2 separate regions of the Homo sapiens genome follow, and region 1 is linked to region 2. Evidence: fine-mapped expression QTL. A gene starts in region 2. The other region holds a variant in brackets. All regions are shown on one strand. Distances are between the middles of the regions.

The links. PIP is the estimated chance that this variant, and not a neighbour inherited with it, causes the effect. A credible set is the group of variants that fine-mapping cannot tell apart.
Region 1: its variant is the best candidate, but not a certain one, in a credible set for the expression of XYLB in nasal epithelium (TOPMed, PIP 0.55).

The regions. Positions count from the first base shown.
Region 1 is chr3:38,381,312-38,390,736 of GRCh38, forward strand. All of the region lies in intron 15 of XYLB (xylulokinase), which reads left to right. Among named protein-coding and RNA genes, the nearest start is that of XYLB, 39 kb to the left of the region's middle. The variant CCTTTCCTT/C (reference allele first, on the strand shown) is at 3,375.
Region 2 is chr3:38,342,967-38,352,391 of GRCh38, forward strand. XYLB (xylulokinase) reads left to right here and starts at 3,819. Exons shown (of 19, transcript NM_005108.4): 1 at 3,819-3,959; 2 at 5,584-5,666. The coding sequence starts at 3,903. RefSeq lists enhancers at 3,596-4,427, 4,428-5,259 and silencers at 3,986-4,225, 4,236-4,295.

The DNA of each region.
Region 1 (9,425 bases), 38 kb after region 2:
TCTTTACTTTAATCTCTTGATCCTGTCAGCTGAGGAGGATATATCGCCTCAGGACCCTGTAATAATTGCATTAACTGCACAAATTGTACAGCATGTGTGTTTGAGCAATGTGAAGTGTGGGCACCTTGAAAAAAGAACAGGATAACAGCAATTGTTCAGGGAATAAGAGAGATAACCTTAAACTCTGACTGCTGGTGAGCTGGGCAGAACAGAACCATGTTTCTCTTCCTTCAAAAGCAAATGGGAAAAATATCGCTGAATTCTTTTTCTCAGCATGGAACATCCCTGAAAAAGAGAATGTGCGCCTGCGGGTAGGTCTCTGAACTGGCCCCCCTGGGCGTAGCCTGTCTCTTATGGTTGAGGCTGCAGAGATGAAATAAACTCCAGTCTCCCATAGTGCTCCCAGGCTTATTAGGAAGAGGAAATTCCCACCTAATAAATTTTGGTCAGACTGGTTGATCCCAAAACCCTGTCTCCTGATAAGATGTTACCAATGACAATGGTGCCCGAAACTTCATTAGCAATTTTAATTTCACCTCGGTCCTGTGGTCCTGTGATCTCACCCTGCCTCCACTTGCCTTGTGATATTCTATTATCCTGTTAAGTACTTGATGTCTGTCACCCACACCTATTCGCACACTCCCTCCCCTTTTGAAAATCCCTAATAAAAACTTGCTGGTTTTTGTGGCTTGTGGGGCATCACGGATCCTACCAACGTGGGATGTCTCCCCCAGACACCCAGCTTTAAAATTTCTCTCTTTTGTACTCTGTCCCTTTGTTTCTCAAGCCAGCCGATGCTTAGGAAAAATGGAAAAGAACCTACGTGATTATCGGGGCAGGTTCCCCGATAATGGTGAAACCCCTTCTCTACAAAAAATACGAAAATTAGCCAGGCGTGGTGGCACATGCCTGTAGTCCCAGCTACTCAGGAGACTGAGGTGGGAGGATCGCTTAAGCCTAGGAGGTTGAGGCTGCAGTGAGCCATGAGACCCTGTCTCAAAAAAAATAAAAAAAGCAGATGAAACTATTTACTATTGTTGGAAGTCGGGATAATTAGTAGTTACCTTTCAGAAGGGGCCTGTGGGGTGCTGTCAATGTTCTGTTTCATGTTCCATGGGTGTGTTTAGTTTTTAAAAATTTATGAACATTATAGGCTTATGATGTGTGCATTTTTCAGGATGTGTGTTCTAGGTCAATACAAGATTTTAACATGTGTAAAATGACCACCATGAGCATTCTGATTGCCCTCATCCCACCACCCTAAGTGTAAAAAGACGTTTCCTAAAGGTCTGCAAAGACTTCCAAGTTCCCTGAAAATGAGACTGGGTGAGCAGGGCAGGGTTGGTGCTGGAGTTGGTGGAGTGCCTGGCAGGGGTCCTCCGGCTGTCAGAAGAGAACCCCAGGGAACGGAACAGCCCAGCATACAGGGAGAAGCAGTTAGGGCAAAAGGCCCCCATGGGCTCAGGAGGAGCTGATGGGATTGTGGCATTATTCCCAGCCTCTAAGGCATTTCTTGTGCAAAACAGCATAGAGTTACTTATCCTCTTAGCAAGCTTAAATGCAGAATCAGACCTGTCTTGCCGCTCTGCTGAGTGATCACTTAAATAGACATACTTGGAACCAACAGAGGTTGCACGCACGTGAGGACTCATTCTCCAGGCTGCTGTGTGGACTGGCCAGCTCTTTCGTTCTTGCCCAGACATCATCTCATTTGGCTTTAATAGTGTCTAAGGGCAATAAAGAGGCACTTTGAATAAAAATGATTATTGTGATACTAACAGCTGCCAGCATTTGTTGGGCACTGAGTGTGTGCCCGGCCCAGTTCCTTAGCAATTAATCTTTATTAACAACAGTACCGCTGAAGTAGGTACTGATATGATTCCCACTTCACAACCGAGGAAACCAAATCTTGCAGTGGTTAAATAACTTGGTCAGGGCTGGCAGAGCTGGGATCTGAACCAAGCCAGTCTGGCTCCAGATGCTGGATTCTCAACCACTGGCTGAACCTGCTTTTTTTAAGGAACAATCGCCCTCTTGATGTTTATAGACACCATCAGACATGATAGAAACCAGCTGGGCAGGGCTAATAAGCCATAGTTTTCAGTTTATATTTCAGTGTGTTTCATGTTGTTTAGGTTGATTGTAAAAACAGTCAAATCTTGTAATAACAAGTTTGAAAAATAAAGAAAATGGGCCTGGTGCTCACACCTGTAATCCCAGCACTTTGGGAGGTGGAGGCGGGAGGATCACTTGAGCCCAGGAGTTTGAGACTGGCAACAGAGAGACCATATCTTCACAAATAATAATAATTATAAATATCCCAGTATAGTGGCATGTGCTTGTGGTCCCAGCTACTGGGGGTGGGGTGGCAGGGGTGGCAGGAGGCCGGGGGGATCGCTGGAGCCTGGGAGGTCAAGGCTGCAATGAGCTGTGATTGCACCACTTCACTCTAGCCTGGGCGACAGAGCGAGACCATGTCTCAAAAAAATAAAGGAAAATGACTCATAATCCCATCCCCTCTCTCCAACCACTGGTATCATTTAGGGACATTTTCTCCCAGTCTCCTTTATGAGCTTATTTCCATACAGCCATAGTTTTGTTCCTTTGTACCTTATATGCAAAGGGTGTATACAAGAACCAAAGTTTGTCAGAAGTCATCTTTGTGGTGCTGCGTATGATGGCCAGGTTACTTTTCCTGCATTTGGGCACTGAGGGTGTTCTTGTTTTTTTTGTTTGTTTGTTTTCTTTGTTTTGTTTTGTTTTGTTTTTCTGGAGACAGGGTTTCACTCCTGTTGCCCAGACTGGAGTGCAGTGGTGTGATCTTGGCTCACTACAACCTCCGCCTCCCGGGTTCAAGTGATCCTCCTGCCTCAGTCTCCTAAGTAACTGGGACTACAGGTGCACACCACCACGCCCAGCTAGTTTTGTATTTTTAGTAGAGACGGGGTTTCACCGTGTTGGCCAAGCTGGTCTCGAACTTCTGACCTCAAATGATCCACCTGCCTCGGCCTCCCAAAGTGCTGGGATTGCAAGTGTGAGCCACCGTGCCTGGCCATTGTTCTTGGTTTTCCAACGTGGAATCACACTAGAGCATCTTCCATAGCTTGAATTATTTCCCCAGGAGGATGGCAGTCCTTCTCTCTTCCCAGACACTGTCTTCACGGCCAGCGATGAAGATGGGAGAAGCTGAGAGGTGGGGGCTGAATGTCTTCTTCTGGACAGAGCCAAGGGGCTGGATGGAAAGCAGCAGGTCTTAAAAACAACTATTTGTTTTAAAATACATAACGAATGGATGTCTTTTTATCACAAAAGATTCATGCAAAACAGAAATATGGAATAAGAAGCAAATGCCCCCTTCATTTGCCTCCCAGACT[CCTTTCCTT/C]CTTTCCAGACTGTGACTTCCTTCCTGTGAGTTTCTGTGTTAGATTGAATCATACGGAATTGCCAATATTGAAGAAGTTTTGATTTACAAAAATGGCAATTTCATATGGTTCGACCTGACACGTGTGTGTGTGTATATATTTAACAGAAATGCTATTACATTCTATGTGTTATTCTGAGACTTGCTTTCCATAACAGTATGTACAGGTCTACCTTTTTGTTTTCTAATGACTGGCATGAGGTCTGATAAATTATTTTATAGCCCTAGTTGAAGGACATTAAGATTATTTCTTGTTTTGTTTTGTTTTTGTTTTTGTTCTTGTTTTGAGACAGAGTCTCACTCTGTCACCCAGGCTGGAGTGCAGTGGTACAATCTCAGCTCACTGCAACCTTCGCCTCCCGGGTTCAAGCGATTCTTGCACCTCAGCCACCTGAGTAGCTGGGATTACAGGTGCGCGCCATACCACCTGGCTAATTTTTGTATTTTTGTAGAGACGGGGTTTCGCCATGTTGCCTAGGCTGGTCTCAAACTCTTGACCTCACGTGATCCACTCATCTTGGCCTCCAAAGTGCTGGGATTGTAACCTCCACTTTCACCATCTCATTCTATGCCCTATACCCTTGTCCCTAGTTCATTCTTGTTTGTGTATTTTTTTTCCCTTGAGCATGTTAGCTAAAGGTTGGTATATTTTATTAAGCAATGTTAATATTTTGTTTTGTGCTCCCTTTTATTAATTTCTAATTTTATCTTTTTAAATGCTTTCCTTCTACTTTATGAATTTTTTCTTTTTCTGTATTTTTAAGTTGAAATTTTAGCTCATTTATTCCTATCCTGTATTAACTTCTAATTTATGCATTTCAGAATGCTACATGTTAACTTTATTTACATAACATATCTTTCATTTCTAAAAAGATAGTAATTTTCATCTTTTTCTGCATCAGTGAGTGGTCCTTCAAACTGGCCCCTCGTCCTTTTGACATATCTTCCATCATTCCTTGAGCATTTCCATAGCTTCTAGTATAAAAAAAGTTTCAGGCTCATCTTGTTTTTTCCTTGGATCAGCCTTGTAATCTTCCATTTATCCAAGGGGCCCTGACTTCTCTGAGTGGGAGAGATGTTTGGATGCTCTCTCTGGATGCTCATTGCTACTGGGATGATGCTGTTCCCAGCCCCTTTCAGTGGGCTGAGCTGGGAATATGTAAGGATATATAACAACCCCTTTCAGTGGGCTGAGCTGGGAAATATTAGGATATATATATACATATCCAAATATATATATGTCTGTATCAATACACACGTTACCTTTCTATTTGTCTGTCTGTCTACTTCTCCATGTGTTGAAAAACATGAGTTCAACCCTATACACTCTACTTCCAGTCCAACACCATGGGGTTCATTCTGGCTTTCTTCCTTCCCATATTTGTATCTTATCCTAACAGTGACAAAGTTGATTCTTCTGACCCCTCCAGATTGCTGCCTCCTTGACATGCAAGCCCCATTTTGGCTTCTCTGCTTACCCTTACCTGTGTTGTCTCTGTGTCGTCTCTCCAGCAGCCTCTTGAATCTGCCCCACTCTGGTTATGTACTTACATGTGGCCCTTGAGCCACTTCTGTTTGCCTATTTAATGGCTTTTTAGAGAAGGAAGAAGAAAAAAGAAAGGTAGGAAGGTAGACAGGCAATAAATATTTTTAAAGGGAAGGGTCCATTTACATTTAATGTAATTATTGAAATGATTGGATTTAATTGAATCTATCCATTTATTTTTTATTTTTTTAATCCATCCATTTACAAAATGGATTACATATCAATTTTTCTTTTTCTTTTCTTTTGTTCTATATGTTCTTTTTTCTTTCTTATTCTTTTCCTGTCTTATTTTTGGATTAACTGAGCAATGTCTAGTATTCCATTTTATCTCCTCTGTTGGCTTTTTAAGGTATACACTTTTTAATTGATTTTTAAATTGAAATCCTTAATTTGAAAAGTCTGGTTTGCACTAATATTATACACTTGAATTTTTTACGAACATGCTTGCACTACAAGAATGACTAAAGGATGTCTTCCGGGCTAAAGGGAAAATCATACCAGATGGAAAGTCAGAGCTTCAGGAAGGAATGTAGAACATCTATAAAAAGTGGATTCTCTTAAGTTTTACTTTGTCTGAAAATGTATTTATTTTACTTCATATTAAAATAATGTTTTCTGCTGTGGAATTCTAGGTTGGCACTTTTTACTTTCAGCACTCTGAAAATGTCATTTCATTGTTTTCTTGACTTCTAATGTTTCAGATAAGAAATTAACTGTCATTCTTAATGTTATTCTCCTGAATGTAATGGGGTTTTCTTCTCTGGCTGATTTAAGATTTTTCTATTAATCTTTGATTTTCAGCAGTTTGATTATGATATACCTAAGTAAGGGTTTTTTAATTATTATTTTGTATGTATCCCCTTTGTGATTCACTGAGCTTCTTGGATCTGTGGGTTAATGTCTTCCATCAATTTTGGAAAATTCTTAGCCATTATTTCTTCAAATATTTATTTTTCCCTATTCCCTCTTTCCTTTCCTCTGGACTTCAGTTACACATCTGCTGTTGTCCCATAGGACTTTGATTTTCTATTCTTTTTTTTTTTTCTCTCTCTCCCTGCTTCAGTTGGACAAGTTCATTTTTTGTTTTGTTTTGTTATGTTTTGTTTTTTTGAGACAGAGTCTTGCTCTGTTGCCCAGGCTGGAGTGCAGTGGCATGATCTCGGCTCACTCCAACCTCCACCTGCTGGGCTCAAGCGCTTCTCCTGCCTCAGCCTCCTGAGTTGCTGGGACTACAGGCAAGCGCCACCACATCTGGCTAATTTTTTGTATTTTTAGTAGAGATGGGGTTTCACCATGTTAGGCAGGCTGGTCTTGAACTCCTGACCTCAGGTGATCCGCCTGCCTCAGCCTCCCAAAGTGCTGGGATTACAGGCATGAGTCACTGTGCCCGGACTTCAGATGGACAATTTCTATCACACCTCTTTTTATTCATGTTTCTGCTGTAGACAGTCTGCTATTAAGTCCATCTAACAAATTCATTTTGGATATTATATTTTTTCTATTTCTAGAATTTCCATTTCATTCTCTTATACTTTCTTATGTCTCTGCTGAAATTTTTCATATTTTAACCATTTTGTCCATCTCTTCCTCTGACTTTATATCATCTTTATAATTATTATAAAGCTCCTATCTGCTAATTCATCTCAGAGTCTGCTTTTATTTACTATTTTACTGCCATTTCCTGCTTCTTAAAATGCTATTTAATTTTGTTTGAATGCTGTACGTTGTGTTTAAAAGTACGGTGTTGACTAAAGTGGCTAATTTTTAAACCTTTTACTTTTGAGATAATTGTAGATTCACATGCAGTTGTTAAATAAATAGCTAATGTTTACCTGCAGAAAAGGCTTGCCCTTCTATCAGGAAGTGCGGGTGAGGTGGTGGTTTTTTTTTGTTTTTTTTTTTTTTTTTTTTTTACTTTTATCATTTAATTTTTATTTTTAAAAATGTATATAGTAAAAAAGCTGGGTTGCGGAGATGTCGGTCAGTGGATTAAAAATTTTGGTTAGGGTACAGGAACATATTCAAGAGATTTATTGTACAACATGGTGATGATAGTTTATAACAGTGTATTGTATTCGTCAAAATTGCCAAGAGATTTTAGGTGTTCTCACCACAAAAGATAAGTATGTGAAGTAATGCATAAGTTAATTAGCTCAATTTAGTCATTCCACAATATATACATATTTCAAAACATGTTGTATAGGATAAATATGTGCAATTTTTATTGTCAATTTAAATAAGTAACAAAATAAGTAAAAAAAAGTCTAGAAGCCTATATAACAGCATACTAACAGTGTAACTCTGGTGTAACTAGGGTTGGTTTTTACTTTCTTCATTTTGTCTTTTCTAATTTTTTGTATAGTAACTTTTATCACTGGGCTTAACAGGAATCTAAAAAATGTATTTTTAGCAATTGTTATGTTATATCCACAACATGATCTATATATTTTGTCAGGGAGGTTTATTTTTTGACTCAGAACTAGTTTGTTCTTGAAATATGTACTTTATTCTTTTAATTAGGGCTTAAAATGTTAAAATATTTCTAAAGAGGACTATTTTGGGACTCTACAGTGTACCTCTTTAATGAGAACACCCACAGTTTAGGCCTATTAAGGCATACTTCCTTTATTTTACTAAAGAATTAAAATAATAAAGATTTGATAATTTTCTTTCTTTTTTTTTTTTATTGATCATTCTTGGGTGTTTCTCGCAGAGGGGGATTTGGCAGGGTCATAGGACAATAGTGGAGGGAAGGTCAGCAGATAAACAAGTGAACAAAGGTCTCTGGTTTTCCTAGGCAGAGGACCCTGCGGCCTTCCGCAGTGTTTGTGTCCCTGGGTACTTGAGATTAGGGAGTGGTGATGACTCTTAACGAGCATGCTGCCTTCAAGCATCTGTTTAACAAAGCACATCTTGCACCGCCCTTAATCCATTTAACCCTGAGTGGACACAGCACATGTTTCAGAGAGCACAGGGTTGGGGGTAAGGTCATAGATCAACAGGATCCCAAGGCAGAAGAATTTTTCTTAGTACAGAACAAAATGAAAAGTCTCCCATGTCTACTTCTTTCTACACAGACACAGCAACCATCCGATTTCTCAATCTTTTCCCCACCTTTCCCCCTTTTCTATTCCACAAAACCGCCATCGTCATCATGGCCCGTTCTCAATGAGCTGTTGGGTACACCTCCCAGATGGGGTGGTGGCCGGGCAGAGGGGCTCCTCACTTCCCAGAAGGGGCGGCCGGGCAGAGGCACCCCCCACCTCCCTCCCAGACGGGGCGGCTGGCCGGGCGGGGGCTGACCCCCCACCTCCCTCCCGGACGGGGCGGCTGGCCGGGTTTTTTTTTGTTTAATCAGGGGTTGGATCAGTACTAGTTAGTTTTAGTTCACCAGTAGTTGCAGTGTCTTGGGATCAGGATCAGCAGGATCAGGCCCCTCCCTCCATCAAGTCTTTGGGACCTAACCACTGAGATTACAGAGCTCTTTCTCTGTTTTCCAGCTCTTCCCCCACTTCCACATCACTGCTTCCATAGTAGTTCACTGGAGACATTTGGTGGGTAGGGAGGACTAGCTCTATATTGGAGACTCTTCCAGATTTCAGTCCTCCATACCAGCCCAAATGTAGTTGTTTTTCTTTTCTAGCAAATTTTATCTGCCTGTAGAGTCTTACTTCTTCATGTCTCCCATGCTGCAGGTATGAATCAGCACTTAAGGGCTCATCTCATTCTGGAATTTATTTTATTTAGACTTCTTGAATTTACAATTTTTTGATAGCTTCAAGCAAAAATATGATGCTCTGGTTGTTGTTGTTTATTCCATTCTGTCATTGTTACAGCACAAATGTGTTCTTTCTTGACCATCATCATCTTAGCTGGAAGTGGAACTATATGTCTTTTATTAGATTAAGGTTTATTATTATTTTACTATTTATTTTTATTTATTTATTCTAAAATGGAGTTTCACTTGCTCTGTGGCCCAGGCTGGAGTGCAATGGTGCATTCTCGGCTCACTGCAACCTCTGCCTCCTGGGTTTAAGCAATTCTCCTACCTCAGCCTCCTGAGTAGCTGGGATTACAGGTGCCCACCACCACACCTGGCTAAGTTTTGTATTTTTAGTAGAGACGGGGTTTCACCATATTGGCCAGGCTGGTCTCGAACTCCTGACCTCAGGTGGTCTTCCTGCCTCGGCCTCCCAAACTGTTGGGATTACAGGTATGAGCCACTGTGCCCAGCCTATTATATTTTTTTGGAGACAAAGTCTGGCTTTGTCAGGCAGGAATACACCCAGGCTGGAGTACAGTGGTGTGATCACGGCTCATTGCAGCCTTGAATTCCTGGGCTCAAGCAATCCTCCCACTTCAACCTCCCGAGTAGCTGGGACCACAGGCATGCATCACCGTTTCCAGCTAATTTTTGTATTTTTTGTAGGGACAGAATCTTTGTTGTCCAGGTTGGTC
Region 2 (9,425 bases):
CCATTTTCATGATATTGATTCTTCCTACCCATGAGCATGGAATGTTCTTCCATTTGTTTGTATCCTCTTTTATTTCCTTGAGCAGTGGTTTGTAGTTCTCCTTGAAGAGGTCCTTCACATCCCTTGTAAGTTGGATTCCTAGGTATTTTATTCTCTTTGAAGCAATTGTGAATGGGAGTTCACTCATGATTTGGCTCTCTGTTTGTCTGTTGTTGGTGTATAAGAATGCTTGTGATTTTTGTACATTGATTTTGTATCCTGAGACTTTGCTGAAGTTGCTTATCAGCTTAAGGAGATTTTGGGCTGAGACAATACTGGCAAACCGAATCCAGCAGCACATCAAAAAGCTTATCCACCATGATCAAGTGGGCTTCATCCCTGGGATGCAAGGCTGGTTCAATATATGCAAATCAATTAATGTAATCCAGCATATAAACAGAACCAAAGACAAAAACCACGTGATTATCTCAATAGATGCAGAAAAGGCCTTTGACAAAATTCAACAACCCTTCATGCTAAAAACTCTCAATAAATTAGGTATTGATGGGACGTATTTCAAAATAATAAGAGCTATCTATGACAAACCCACAGCCAATATCATACTGAATGGGCAAAAACTGGAAGCATTCCCTTTGAACACTGGCACAAGACAGGGATGCCCTCTCTCACCACTCCTATTCAACATAGTGTTGGAAGTTCTGGCCAGGGCAATTAGGCAGGAGAAGGGTATTCAATTAGGAAAAGAGGAAGTCAAATTGTCCCTGTTTGCAGACGACATGATTGTATATCTAGAAAACCCCAAAATCTTATAATATTTTAAGAAAGTTTACTGATTTGTGTTGAGCTGCATTCAAAGCCATCCTGGGCCACATGCAGCCCATGGGCTGCAGGTTGGACAAGCTCGGTCTAGTGAATTCCACCATTACACCTCTCTCATGATCTCTTTCTGTGTCTTTGATAGCCTTCACAGCTCCCTATGTGGGTTCATCTGTCCACTCTGAGCCCTTTCTGTGCAAACTAACCCACTCTTATTGGGAGCTGACATCTGCTGTCAAAAGACAAAATTACAACAAATTTAAAGATCCTAAATGGATTTTATCTGTGATTCTAGAATTGGACAACACCTCATTCTGTACAAAAGAAGGAGTGTTCCAATGATCTGAGCAAAGGATGTATAACCACCCGACAGGTTCACCTTGCCCACTGCCTAGACAGAGCCAATTTATCAAGACAGGGGGACTGCAATAGAGAATGAGTAATTCACACAGAGCCAGCTGTGTAGGAGACCAGAGTTTTATTATTACTCAAATCAGTCTCCCAGAGCATTTGGGAATCAGAGTTTTTAAGAATAATTTGGTGGGTGGGTGGAGGCCAGTGAGTTGGGAGTGCTGATTGGTTGGGTCGGAAATGAACTCATAGGAATTTGAAGCTATCTTCTTGTGCTGAGTCAGTTCCTGGGTGGGGGCCACAAGATCAGATGAGCCAGTTTATGGAGCTGGGTGGTACCAGCTGATCCATCAAGTGCAGGGTCTCTAAAATATCTCAAGCACTGATCTTAGGTTTTACAATAGTGATGTTATCCCCAGGAGCAATTTGGTGATGGTCAGAATCTTGTAGTCTCCAGCTGCATGACTCCTAAACCTTAATTTCTAATCTTGTGGCTAATTTGTTAGTCCTACAAAGGCAGTCTAGTCACAGGCAAGAAGGAGATTTGTTTTGGGAAAGAGCTGTTATCATCTTTGTTTTAAACTATAAAGTAAGTTCCTCCCAAAGTTAGTTCTGCCTATGCCCATGAATAAGCAATGACAGCTTGGAGGCTAGAAGCAAGATGGAATTGGTTAAGTCAGATCTCTTTCACTGTCTCAGTTATAATTTTGCAATGGCAGTTTCATTAGGCCACGTTAACTAACTTCTCTACACCTCAGTTTCTCACTCTGTAAAATGAAGATGGTAAGTTATACGAAGTTCAAAGTGAGTTTATACTGGTAGACATCAGAATAGTGATTGCCTTGGGAGTTTAGGAAGGGTCATGAAGGAAACTTCTGGAGTGGTGGAAATGTTCTGTTTTGATCTCAGTGTTTATATGGGTATATACATACATTTTTAAAAAGTCATTGGCCAGGCACGGTGACTCACGCCTGTAATCCCAGCACTTTGGGAGGCTGAGGCAGGTGGATCACATGAGGTCGGAGTTTGAGACCAGCCTGACCAACATGGTGAAACCCCATCTCTACTAAAAATACAAAATTAGAGCCATACGCAGTGGCTCACGCTTGTAATCCCAGCACTTTGAGAGGATGAGGCAGGCGGAACACCTGAGGTCGGGAGTTCAAGACCAGCCTAACAAACATGGAGAAACCTCGTCTCTACTAAAAATACAAAATTAGCTGGGCGTGGTGGCGGATGCCTGTAATCTCAGCTACTCGGGAGGCTGAGGCAGGAGAATCACTTGAACCCAGAAGGCAGAGGTTTCAATGAGCTGAAATCACGCCATTGCACTCCAGCCTGGGCAACAAGAGTGAAACTCCGTTTCAAAAAAAAAAAAAAATTAGCTGGGTGCGGTGGTGTGCGCCTGTAATCCCAGCTACATGGGAGGCTGAGGCAGAAGAATCAGTTGAACCAGGGAGGTGGAGGTTGCAGTGACCGGAGATCACGCCACTGCACTCCAGCCTGGGTGACAGGAGTGAAACTCTGTCAAAAAAAAAAAAAAAAGTCATCAAGCAGTTAAGATTAGATTAAAATGCAGTAATCTAATCTTAATTAGATTAGATACTTAGATACCTTTATTTAAAATTTTTTAAAAGTGGAGATAATAGTACCTACTTCCCAGCATCATTGTGACGATTAAATGTGCTCAGCAGGTTGCATAATTGTTTCTGATCTAGCTAGTATCCAGTATTTGTCTATTGTCACAGGTGGTGACTGCTGGAGGGGCTGAGTCCCCAATAAGCTGTGAATGTCTTGGAGGACAAGTATGTTGGCCCCTTCTTGTTCTAGCAGTGAAGAGGATCCCATGTAGACTCCAAGCAGCTCAAGTTCAGCAAGGGAGACAGACCATTGCAAGTGCATGAAAAGGGCACTGGTGGGCTGGGAAGTTCGTAGGAGGAGCCTCTCACATGCTGGGTTTGGGGAGGAATTCTGGAAAGCAGTTAGTCTTAGGGACGGGAAGGATGTAGCTGGTGGGACAGGCGCCCTCAGCTCCATGAATAAAAGGAGTGGGTCTGACTCTGGTTCTCATTCCCCTTTACCATGCCTGGCACACATTAGACCATCAATACCAATTGACTCCAGGAAGGAGTGTCTCCCCGTGGGGGCATCAGGAGCCGCTGAGTTTAAATACACAGGTGGGATGTGACACACTGGGAACCATTCAGATTTGCTGGATCTGGATAGGGCTTGTCAGGACTCAGTGCTTCCAACCCCAGGGCCCATTTCCCTGTGGCCCCTGAGTCACCACCATGGGTGGACAGCTGCTCCAGTGCCAAGATACAGCCACAGAGGACGGCAGGCCCAGGGCCTCCAGAAGGACAGGCAGGCTCCCTCTGAAAGACAAGCCGGCTTATAGCTGAAACCTCTGGCCCAGGCGTCCTCTAAGGGAAGCCAGGCGGTGTCAGGGCACGGCCCATGAAGACATAAGATGAAGATGGGGAGAACCAGAGGGGGTGCGCTTCGAAGGAAAGCGGGCTGCGTGGGGGCACCGTCGATTGCACAGGACGCGGTCCCGGCTCGCGTAGCCCCGCAGGCGGCGCCAGAGCGCAAGCCCGCCTCGTGACTCCGGTCCACAGTCCGGCCGGGCGGAGCTAGGGGCGGGCCCCTGCGTCTCTGGGCGCTGGAGCGCGGCGACTATCACGCCGCGTGGCGGACGGACGGACTGACGGACGCGCAGCCTTACCCGAAAGGCCATGGCGGAGCACGCCCCTCGCCGCTGCTGCCTGGGCTGGGACTTCAGCACGCAGCAGGTACAGTCGCCTGGCCGCAGGGCCACGGGGCCGCCTCCTCCGCTTCGGTGGGGGTAGGGGGCGGGCTGTCACCCGGACGCGGGAAAACATGGGCCCGGCCGCGGGCGCGCCTACCTCTCGGGCTTCCCGGGGCCCCCGCGCCCCTGCCCTGCGCGCGGCCGTGGGGCGCCGGTGCCCTCGCCCGGAGATGCCCTGCCAATGCCACCCGCTCGCAAGATGCGGCCTCGACCCCGCCTGGACCCAGCTACCCCAGGAAACTGCAGGCGCTCCTCGGCAGGACCCCCGGTGCCCAGAGGGGCCGGAGGACTCGGCGGGTTCCTGCGCTGTTCTGGGCACCCAGTGACGGGGATCCGAAGGAAGTCAGCTACTGTAAGGCAGGGGAACAGACAGGCGGGTAGCCCTGCGCACATGCACAACCAGTGACCTGGAAGCAGATTATAGCCCAAAACCTTTTTTTAAAAATTGAAATGGCCCAGGCCTGGTGGCTCTTGCCGGTAATCCCAGCACTTTGGGAGGCCGAGGCGAGTGGATCGCTTGAGCCCAGGAGTTCGAGACCAGCCTGGGCAATATGGAGAAACCCCGGTCTCTACCAGAAAATACAAAAATTAGCCGGGCATGGTGGAGCACACCTGTAGTCCCAGTTTTTCTGGAGGCTGAAGCGGATCGCTTGAGCCCAGGAGGTGGAGATTGCAGTGAGCTAAGATGGCGTCACCGGTCTCCAGCCTGGGCGACAGAACGGGACCCTGTCTCAAAAAAAAAAAAAGAAAAAAGTGAAATGCATAGTGTACAAGTGGACTTTACCCTGTGACCGCCCTTCGTTGACACCAGCTTGCCTGGTCTGTGCACCCAGGACTGCTGGCCAGAGGAGCAGTGTGCTGCTGCCAACGCCCTGCAGACAGGCAAGCAAATCAAAATTTGCCTTCAAAGAGGGCATGGGGTGACCGGGGGCACCTTTTCCTTTAAAGTACTTGGGAAATATACACAGTTGCAGTCAAACCCCTCTTCTCGAATGGGTCAAGGGAGGCAGGCCTCTGGCCAGTCCTTGGGGGAACGTCCTGTGGGACTCTGGATGACTCGAGTTGCCTTGCTGGACCTCAGTTTTCCCATCTGTCCAGGAAAGGAGTTATACTCCCAAGCTTGGAGATTGCTTCAGTGGGACATTAATGTCTCTGGACCACAATCATGGCCTGTGAGAATAGCCCATGGCCTTGCCTGGTCTCAGGCCTCTGCAGACATGGATCCCCAGAGATGCCTCCAAACCTTGCTTCCCATTCCTTCCTCTCTGGCACTTTCTCCCGCCTCCTTGTCAGGTGCACGAACCAACTCATCTGTGAACATCTTCCTCTAGAGGGTCTTGGCTTTGGCTATTTGGGGAACAAAGATTCCTTGAGACATGTGGGTGTTCCTACTTAGCCTCAGTTTCTTCATTTTACTAAATCTTTGAGTGTTACCCCAGATGAGTCCTCTGTTACCACGATTACGGTGAGGCAGCCCTGCCTTCAAGGAGGTCTCTAGGTTGAACTGCTCCTAGGGTGTGGGGCCTCATCTGGTGACGTTAGTACCCCCTGGACCAGTGTAGAAGCTGAGGAAAATTCTACACTTCCTTTTTTAAAATGCCTTTCAGGTAAAGGTTGTTGCTGTTGATGCAGAGTTGAATGTCTTCTATGAGGAAAGTGTGCATTTTGACAGAGATCTTCCAGAATTTGGGTATGTACTTGATGTGCATGTGTGTGTGATGGGGGTGTTGGTTTTGGGGTCCTCCCGCAAACTTTTGTATTCGCAGACCGCACTGTTGAGGCTTTGCCAAATACAGGAGTGGTGGTCTCGGCAGACCTTTCAAGCATCTTTTTTTCCTATACCTAGAGTGCCATCTCCCCCATTTCTTCCTAATTCCATTCATCCATTCATGAAGTAAGCATCAGTTGAGACCTACTTTGTGCCAGGTGCTAGGACCTGATGGCGAAACAAAAAGAGAAAGCTCTCCCAGAGCTTCCCACTGAGTAGTGGAGACTGGTATCAAACAAAGAATCTCACAAAAGAGTGTTTCATTATAAACTCTGAGAAGGCCTCTGAAGGAAAGGAACTCACTTCTCCAAGTGCTTATTATAAAGGAATGTGACTCAGACTTGGGAGGGGAAGTCCCAGAGCGTCTCTAGGGAAGTGGTGCTTAAGCTAGAGATCAGAGTGAGTGAAGTTAGCCAAGCGATGGAAGGGAAGTTGGCCAGGTGATGGAAGAGCATTCCAGGCAGAAGGAACAACATGTGCGAGGGCCCTGTGGCAAGAAAGAGCATGGTTCATTCCTTCATGCAATTGAAGAAAGCCAATGATGCTGGGGAGCAGAGAGAGGCGGAGGCTGGTCAGAGCTCCATAGGCCATGGTATAGAGTTTGTCTTTATTCTAAAAGCTATGGTCAGCCACTAAGGGCCATAAGGGGTAGGGGTATGGGTGAGGTATGAATGACAGGTTGTATTTTTGTTTTGAAAATATCTCTCTGGGGGCATTGGGAGAACAGATTCGGAGCATTGCTGGAATGGACGTGGGGAACTATTAAAGAGGTTTTTGCTGGTCATTCAGGTATGAAATGATGGATAGGAGAGAGCTGAGTAGTAAAATGGACAGGTCCTGTTACAAAATTGAATGTGAGATGTAAGGGTGGGATTTCTGGCTGTCCTTCAGAGTGGATGTTGGACTGTGGGAAAGAATGAGTTTTGGAGAGAAAGATCATGAGTTCAGCTTGGGCTGCCATAACAAGGTACCATAGACTGGGTGGGTTAAAGAGCGGAAATTTATATTCTCACACATCTGGCCGTTAGGAGTCTAAAATCAAAGTGCTGGGAAGATTGGTCTCCTCTGGGACCTCTCTCCTTGGCTTGCAGGTGACCACTCTCTTGCTGTGTCTTCACATGGTGGTCACTCGGTGCAGGAGTGCTTGGTGTCTCTGTCATCTGTATCCTAATCTTCTTATAAGGACATGAGTCATACTGGATTAAGGCCCATTCTAATGACTTCATTTTAACTTAATTGCCTTTTTAAAGGCCCTGTCTCCAAATAATCACAATCCAAGGCCCTCGGGGTTAGGATTTCAGCATATGAGTTTTAGGGGCAGAGGGGGCACAATTCAGTCCGTAACACTGTGGACTTGCTGGTTTTGAGGCACCCTCGTGAGGGCCTGGTAAAAGTGTCCTTCCCTGTCTGTTTTAGACACACTTCCTCTTTGAAGCCTTCCCAGCTGACCCTTTGTGCACCTCTCATTACCCATCACATTGTGTTGCCAACTCTTTGCCCCCAGCTAATGCGGCCCCATGGAGCCGAGGTTAGAAGCCATCTTGCTTTCTCACATTTTTTATTATTGCAGGCCTTGCATGTTTGCCTTTGGGTAGTTGGTATGTTTCAAGGAATTGGTCTTTTCAACTAAGCCATCAAATGTGTGGCCATAGTGTTGTTCATAATATTCCTTTATCCTCCTTATGACATCTGTGGGACCAGTAATGATGATCTCTTGCTGTTGGTCATTTCTGATATTGGTAATTTGTCTTCTCTCTTTTTTTCTTTGGTTATCCTGGCTAGAGGTTTATCAATTGTATTGATCTTTTCAAAGTTCAACTTTTGGTTTTGTTGATTTTCCCCTGTTGTTTTCTTCAAGTTGTGCTCTAATTTTTATTACTTAGTTTCTTCTGCTTGCTTTAGGTTTAAATTGCTCTTTTTTCCCTAGTTTCCTCAAGTGGAAACTTAGAGGATTGATTTAAGACCTTCTTTTCTAATATATGCATTTAATGCTATAAATTTCTCTGTAAACACAAATGCTTTTTATGGGATGCCTTAGCAGCATCCCATACATTTTGATAAGTTATAGTTTCATTTTTTTTCGTTCAAAATATTTTTTAGTTCTCTTGAGACTTCTTTGACTCATGGGTTATTTAGAAGAATGTTTTTAGGCTGGGTACAGTGGCTCACACCTGTAATCCCAGCACTTTGGGAGGCTGAAGCAGGCAGAACACTTAAGGTCCGGAGTTTGAGACCAGCCTGGCCAACATGGTGAAACCCTGTTTCTACTAAAAATACAAAAAAATTAGCTGGACGTGGTGGCAGGCATGGTGACAGGCACCGTGTATGCTGCACGCCTGTAATCCTAGCTAGCTGGGAGGCTGAGGCAGGAGAATTGCTTGAACTGTGGAGAGGGAGGTTTCGGTGAGCCAAGATCGCGCCACTGCACTCCAGCCTGGACAACAGAGGGAGAGCCTGTCTCAAAAAAAAAAAAAAAAAAAAAAAAAAAAGGAAGTCTGGAAGTGTGTTGTTTAATCTCCAGATTTTCCAGTTTTCTGTTATTGATTTCTAGTTTAATTTCATTGTGGTCTGAGAACATACCCTATATGACTTCTAGTCTTTCAAAATTTTAAAATTTCCTCTCCCTCACTCTCTCTTCCACTTAATAAGTCAGTCCTCTCCACTGGACATTTAAAAAAAGGTGTCCATAACCAAAATATGGTATTGCTTTTTTCCATTATATTTTCAAGATATTTTAAACCAGATGCCTATAGATTTAGTTCATTCCTTCCCCATCACCTCAATTGCATTGTGGGTTTTCTTTTTACAACTTTATTAAGGTATAACTGATGTACAATACTGTGCATATTTGGAGTATACAGTTAAAAGCTTTAATATCTGTATTCTTTCATGAAACTATCACCAAAATAAGACAATGAGTATTTCCATGTCCTAAAAATTTCCTCCTGCCTCTTTGCAAGCGATGCCTCCTTCCCCATACCCCTACCCACTGGCAACCGCTGATGTGTTTTCTATCACTAGTTTGTATTTTCTAGAATTTTGTATAGATGGAATCATAATTATGTATGCTTTTTTAAAACCTTTAAAATTTTACATCACAGTTTTGAGATTCATCCATGTTGCTACATGTGGCAATAGTTGGTTCCTATTATTGCCGAGTAGTATTTCATTGTATGATGTTGTATGGATGGACTACAATTGGTTTCACCTGATGAGGGATATTGGGGTTGTTTCTCTTTTCTGTTGTTATAAGCAAAGGGCTATGAGAGTCACATACAAGTCTTTTCGTGGACATATGATTTCATTTTTCTTGGAAATGACATACCAGGAGTACAGTGGCTGAGTTATACGGCAGGTATATGTTTAACTTCTTAAGGAATTCTCTTCCAAAGTGGTGATTTTAAGAAAAAAAATTTTATATTGTTAACAGGCATTACATTGCACTTAATATGTAACTCAATGAAAAGTATACAGTGAAAAGTCTTTTTTTTTCTTTTTTTCTTTCTTTTTTTGAGACAGAGTCTGGCTCTGTCGCGCAGGCTGGAGTGCAGTGGCACGATCTCGGCTCACTGCAAGTTCCGCCTCCCGGGTTGTCCTCCATTAGGAAATGGTACATCTACACAATGGAATACTACACATCTATAAAAAAGAACACAGAAGTTTTTATGTATTGACATGTAA